2 linked regions of the Homo sapiens genome follow. The protein of the gene in region 1 purifies or fractionates together with the protein of each later gene. This does not show direct contact. Each region holds a gene or a part of one and is shown on either strand. Other genes may lie near its edges.

Evidence for each region. The genes of interacting proteins can lie anywhere in the genome.
Region 2: the proteins of IDI1 (region 1) and BLMH purify together in Homo sapiens (affinity purification with mass spectrometry; one large-scale study listed by BioGRID and IntAct). This does not show direct contact.

Annotation. Positions count from the first base shown.
Region 1 is NC_000010.11:1,042,620-1,046,119, reverse strand, and holds part of IDI1 (isopentenyl-diphosphate Delta-isomerase 1), read left to right. Parts: intron 1-1,918; exon of another isoform or gene 1,919-1,948; coding exon 1,949-2,121; exon of another isoform or gene 2,122-2,610; coding exon of another isoform or gene 2,611-2,632; intron 2,633-2,726; coding exon 2,727-2,819; intron 2,820-3,357; coding exon 3,358-3,488; intron 3,489-3,500. UniProt on the Homo sapiens protein: Catalyzes the 1,3-allylic rearrangement of the homoallylic substrate isopentenyl (IPP) to its highly electrophilic allylic isomer, dimethylallyl diphosphate (DMAPP).
Region 2 is NC_000017.11:30,281,945-30,285,444, forward strand, and holds part of BLMH (bleomycin hydrolase), read right to left. Parts: coding exon 3,444-3,500; intron 1-3,443. UniProt on the Homo sapiens protein: The normal physiological role of BLM hydrolase is unknown, but it catalyzes the inactivation of the antitumor drug BLM (a glycopeptide) by hydrolyzing the carboxamide bond of its B-aminoalaninamide moiety thus protecting normal and malignant cells from BLM toxicity.

The DNA of each region.
Region 1 (3,500 bases):
CTGTGGGAGGTCCTGGAACTAACTCCCATATATACCAAAGGATGACTGTATATAAAACTAGCCTATAGAAGTTGGAAATCTTTCTAAAATTGAGGCTAACTCTGAAGTTGACTTCCTTTTCACATTATTTTCCCTCTTGATTTGTTTTAATCATTAACCTTATTTCAGATTTTTTGTATTAGATATCAATATCTCCATCATCACTGACTCCTGACACACGCATTCACACACACACACACACACACACACACACCCAGACCCTATGTGGGTCTAGAACTTTGTATTAAGTAGCTGTTTAAACACTTTGTGTACATTCTGCAGTATGCTTGAACTCTGTTGAAAGTATTTCAGTGGTCCCCGTGTGGTGGCTCACTCCTGTAATCTCAACACTTTGGGAGGCCAAAGCAGGCAGATCTCCTGAGGTTAGGAGTTCGAGATCAGCATGGCCAGCATGGCAAGACTTCGTCTCTACTAAAAATACAAAAATTAGCCTGGCGTGGTGGTGCACGCCTGTAGTCCCAGCTACTTGGGAGGTCAAAGCAGGAGAATCACTTGAACCCAGGAGGTGGGGGTTGTAGTGAGCTGAGATTGCACCATTGCATTCCAGCCTGGGCAACAAAACGAGACTCCCTCTCAGAAACAAAAAAGTATTTCAGTAAAATCTATGTATTTGAAATAGAGTCACATAGAAAGTAGAGCACATGGGATCTTCAAAATATATTGGGTAGAAAAATCAGAAAACAAAAATTATTATTCATTCAGAAATAAAGGAGAAGAAAAAAGGGAATAAAAAACTTCAAGGTCAGACTATGTAAAGGTGCCCTGAAGGATACAAAGATTAGAAAGCTTAGACGCTGCTGGATACAGATATGTAAAAGTGTGAGTCAGAATACTGAAAGTACCCTAATAAGTGCTTTACGTTGTAATCACATGGGAGGGATAAATGGGGGTTCAGAAAATTAATGTTTGATGCACTAAGGTAGGAATGGGCCAACTATGGCCTATAGGCCAAATCTGGCCTGCTGCCTGTTGTTACGTCCTGTGAGCTGAGTGTTTTTCTCATATTTAAACGGATGGAGAAGAATCAAAATATTTTGTGACACATGAAAATTAAATGTAATTCAGTGTCCATAAATATTGGCATGCACCCACACTCAGTTTACATACTGCCCAGTTCACCTATTGCCTGTGACTATTTTAGTGTTACAGAGGCAGAGTTCATACTCTCTGGCCCTTCACAGAAAAAACTTGCCAAGCACTGCCTTAAAGCATCTATTGAATATAACGAATTAAGTCTTCTCCTGTTTATCTAGAATGATATCAGCTAAGTACTGTCCTGGGGGAAATTGACAAAACTCATACAAATAATTTTTCTGATAACCCAGGAGCTTGGGTTGAGAAAAACTGGATTAAGTCTTACTGTGACATTGGTAGAAAGGTTATTGAATGTCTGGCACGAGTTGTGCCTTGAAAAAATGGATTTCAACCAAGATTGGCCTGTGGCAATCTTGAGCAACTATGCAGAGACAGGCAGTGGGAAAAACAATTCAGGATGGCAATGGGAGCACATTCTAGAGATTACAGAAGCTGGTGTAGAAAAGCAGGATGAAAAGTTAGGTTGGGGCCAAAAACCAGAGAAGAAAAGTACACTGGAAAAAGGATTGAGTATCAAGTGCTGCAGAGGATCTCAGAGGTCAAGAATTTAGAGCGGAACGTTGAGCTTGGCCTTCAGGAGCATGACTGTGATAAAAGGCCAGCTGTGAAACCTGTAGGAGAAATGATGACCCAGATAGTGCTGAGCAGCCGGCTGGCAGCGTTCTTGGGGTCCCTGTGGGGATGCAGAGTGGTACAACTGCAGATGGGGAAGCAGCATCATTATTAACCTGTGTTTATATGACATTCAGAAAAATATATGATGGCCTTTCTTTCTCTTTTCCTTTAATATTAGTGTTCTAGAACAGATCAGACATTTTGTAATGATGCCTGAAATAAACACTAACCACCTCGACAAGCAACAGGTTCAACTCCTGGCAGAGATGTGTATCCTTATTGATGAAAATGACAATAAAATTGGAGCTGAGACCAAGAAGAATTGTCACCTGAACGAGAACATTGAGAAAGGTGCTGCTTTGAAACAGTCTTTCTTGTAAAGCGATTTGTGTAGGCATTTCCGATTTGCTGAGAAGAGCACTCTGTTCAAGGAAGTGCAGTCTTCAGTAATACCGTATTTTCTCGTTGGTTCCAGTTCGTTAAATAGTGTGGTCATTAGCATCTGCTTTGCTGTCTTCCTGTTACAGCGATTTCTCTTCACTTCATGCCTGTTACTCGGCTTCTTCAGAGTTATTCTGGATTCATAGAAGAGGGACTAGCCCTGACATACAGCAGCAGCCTAGCCTCTAATATTTCTAGAGAGTGGAGAGAGGCGGGCACCATGCAGGGAAGCATGTGCCTTCACCACTTTCCGAGAACTGAATGTCCTTGATAGGGAACTTGACTGCCGGAAAGGGGCCACCAGCATCACCATTTCCTTCACTCGACGGCCAACTTCCTTGCCCAGTGCAGAGCTCTTCCTCACCATAGCCATGCAGAGACTATGCATGTGGATAAACCATGGGAAAAAGCAAAAGCAGCAGCAAGTTACTAATGTTATTCTGAACTGCAGGGAGAGAATTTGGCAAATAACTGGTACTTAAGGCTAAAATAATTGTTATTTCTTTTGCTTTCAGGATTATTGCATCGAGCTTTTAGTGTCTTCTTATTCAACACCGAAAATAAGCTTCTGCTACAGCAAAGATCAGATGCTAAGATTACCTTTCCAGGTTAGTACACTTTTAATGTACAATATTGTGTTTGTACATTAATTTGACTTTTTATCATTCTGAATTCTTGGAGCCAAGGTCACAAAGGGAAATCCTGTGAATGGCATAATTTTATATTCTGCATAAAGTGAGTTTACACAATGAGTGCAACCTAATACAACAGCAAGAAAAAATAAGAACTAGTAAGCAATTGGGCAATATGTATAATTTACATATTTATCTTTAATCTGTATTATCTACACTTTGATCTTTTTTGGTTAAAGAAGTATTAATAAGGAACCTACCTACAAATGTAGTCTGTTTCACAACATAATTACTGATAGCCCATTATAACCAATTTTAAAATCCTTAAAATAATTACTGATAGCCCATTATAACCAATTTTAAAATCCTTAAAATAATTACTGATAGCCCATTATAACTGATTTTAAAATCCTTAAAAATCATTTCATTTTTCAGTTACTTATAAAACTTTTTCTTGATCTTTCAGACCTACTTTGAAGAAAAGTTGATCTGTCTCTGTATTACCATTTTCCAGGTTGTTTTACGAATACGTGTTGTAGTCATCCATTAAGCAATCCAGCCGAGCTTGAGGAAAGTGACGCCCTTGGAGTGAGGCGAGCAGCACAGAGACGGCTGAAAGCTGAGCTAGGAATTCCCTTGGAAGAGGTAACCAGCTCT
Region 2 (3,500 bases), on another chromosome or scaffold:
ATATATTGTTTTCAATAGCTGACAGCCACTGCTATAGAATTTCCTAAGTCAATCATAAAGGCTTCTTTTCCCTTTTTGTGGCACTGACAAATATTGGTTTTGGTCTTTGATTGACTGATCGATTGATTTTAGAAATGAGGTCTCACTAGGTTGCCCAGGTAGCACTTGAACTCCTGGGTTTCTGGACTCAAGTGATCTGCCTTAGCCTCCCAAGTAGCTGGCACTACAAGTGTTACCACCATGCCTGGCTATGTTTTGCTTTTTAACAGACAAGGTTTTTTTTTTTTTTTTTTTTTTGAGACAGAGCCTTGCTCTGTCACCCAGGCTGGACTGCAGTGGCACAATTTTGGTCTCCACCACCTGCAGGGTTCCGGTGATTCTTGTGTCTCAGCTGCCCAAGCAGCTGGCATTATAGGCATGCACCACTATGCCCAGATGTTTTTTTCGTATTTTAGTAGAGACGGGGTTTTGCCATGTTGGCCAGGCTGGTCTTGAACTCCTGGCCTCAAGTGATCCATCTGCCTTGACCTCCCAAAGTGCTGGGATTATAGGCATGAGCCACTGCGCCCAACTGAGAATACATTAATAATCTTAAGGGGATCCGCAGGCTAAAAAAATGGACACTGAGATAACATTGCAATAGAGGTAACTACACATCTCCAAAACAGATCTGCCTTGCCTGTCATCTCAACAAGCAGCCTGCGTCTCACTTCTCAGTAAGAATGCCTTTAGCATAAACACATTTTATTCAAAGCTATCTGAGCTTCACGGCTGTTGATTAAGCCATCATTTTGACTTGCCTACAAGGTTACACAAATCATAGGTACTAATTTGGGGCTTTAAAACTGCAGCTAGACTCTTCATTACCAAAGAGTCAGGTTCAATGAAAAGAAGTCATTTGGGGGATTGTAAAAATTTTAAAACCTTATACACAGGGCCAGGTATGGCGGCTCACACTTTATAATATGCACAATCTTTGGGAGGCTAAGGTGGGAGGACTGCTTGAGCCCAGGTGGTGGAGATCGGCCTGGGAAATATAGTGAGACTGAATCTCTACACAATTTTTTTAATAAATGAGCTGGGCATGGTGGCATGCACCTGTAGTCCCAGCTACTTGGGTGGCTGAAGCAGCATTTGAGCCCAGGAGTTGAAAGTTACAGTAAGCTATGACTGCGCCTCTGCACTCCAGCTTGGGCAACAAAGCAAGACTCTGTCTCTAAGGGGGAAAAAACCCTTACACACAGAATTCTGTAGTAAATAGTTTAGGTAGAATCATTAAGTAAATAATCCTATAAAACATTCATACTCAGGATTTGGTAAAGTTGGATCTACTATTTCTCTGAGGCAGGAGTAGGGGAGGAAAAAAATATGTGAAACATATCTGCCCTAATTCTTACCAGCCAATTACCACGCTCTACCAATGATGAGGACATCAATCTTAGACACATCATTAGTTCAAAGATCATTAAAGCAAACATCAAAAGCCAAAAGGATGCTTATTATCTACAGCAAGTATTATCTGGGCCCTTTTCCACAACTGTTTGCAGAACCTTCATTCCTACTATACCTCCATCTTTTTTTTTTTTTTTTTTTTTGGAGACGGAGTCTCACTCTGTCACCAGGCTGGAGTACAGTGGCACAATCTCGGCTCACTGCAAGCTCTGCCTCCTGGGTTCAAGTGATTCCCCTGCCTCAGCCTCCCGAGTAGCTGGGACTACAGGCGCATACCACCACGCCCAGCTAATTATTTGTATTTTAGTAGAGACGGGGTTTCACCATGTTGGTCAGGATGGTCTTGATCTCCTGACCTTATGATCCGCCCACCTTGGCCTCCCAAAGTGCTGAGACTGCAGGCATGAGCCACCGTGCCTGGCCCCCACCATCTTAATCTAACCCTAAATAAAGGCAAATTATGTAGCAGATATAGCCTCTGCAAGACAGTCATTCCAAGCAAGAAGGGAAGAAGTAACATTTACAGAACTCCTGCTACGTGCCAGGCACTATGCCTTGCATGCTTACATTTAATCCTTGATTCCCCAAAAATCCAATAAGGAAAATATTTCAGATCCTGACTGAATCTCAGACAGGTTAAGTAACTTACCTAGGATCACAGACTGTTAAGTAAAAGAGTCAGAATTTAAACCCATGTATGTCTGACTCCAAAGCCTATTTTTTCCTACTATACTAAGATGCCTCTCTTCTGTAAGAATTTAAGAGATAAAAATGAGATTATTTAAATGCATTTGGTAAATGAAATTTCTGCATTCGTCCACTCAACAAATACTTAAGAAACAGCTATTGTGCCAAGCACTAGGCTAGACATGTTAAATATGAACTGAGCCTTTAGAGCTTAAGGAACTTGTCCCAGGATATAAAGTAATGAGAAGACTAGAGCTCAGATAGCCTGACTTCAGAGATTACACACTCCACTGCTCCACTATGCTGCATCTCTAAGATTTAAAGGAAAACACAAGTGAAGCATTAGTGTTTTCCATCGCAGTGAAAAAAAGTAGGCCATTTTAACTCCATACAGTCTTGAAAGGAAGCCTAATAAAGGGCCTACTGGCTGACAAACGGAAACATTTATTCTTTCCTCAAACCAATTGCAGTTTTATGCATATTCATTCTGGACATGGATAGTATTAATAATAAAGTTTCTTAACTGTCTTGATCATAAATAATATTACCACCTCATATTTTAGTGCTTTTTACATTTTCTAAAATGTTTTTACATACATTAACAAATATAACCATCAATAGCTCCGTCTTTATTTCTACAGAAAGAAGCCAAATGTTCTGGCATCGATCCAACATCCCTTACATCTCTGCCTTTCTAGCTTAATTTGCTACCCATCATACTGAAAAAAGTTATGTTTCAGCCACATGATTCCCTGAAGGTTCTATCTTTGTTTATGGCACTGTTCATACAATTCCTTTTGCCTAGAATGGTCTTGTTATCTACCTGGTAAATTCTGACTACTCTTTCAAGAGCTATCTTCCCTATGAAAGCTTCAGCTCACTGAGCTAGTCACTCCCTCCTCTATGACCACCAAATCAGTTTTTACACATCTAGCATAGGATTTATCATCATTATAGATGTGTTTTCTTTTTCCCAAGAGACTGAGCTCTTTAAGAGCAGTGACTATGTCTTTCTCATCTGTTTCCTCAGTGCCAAACTCATAGAAGGTATTTAATATTTATGAAATGATAAAAGAATGATTATACAGACCACTAAACTACGAATTAGAAAATCCAAGTCCAAGTCCTACACTAAAAGGCAAAGTAAGTTTTAAGCTCAGTTTTTTCAGTGTAAAATAAGTAATTTTCAATTCAATTAAACATTCGTTGCCATGACTAAAGCTTCCTAATCATTACTTTAACAGATGGGAATATTCTGAGAGTTCCTTAGAGGGGTCACAAAAAAATCCAAATTTTGTTATTACCTCCTCCATCATGACGTCCTGTGTGGCCGAGATTTCTCCTTTGGTTGCTCCACTGTG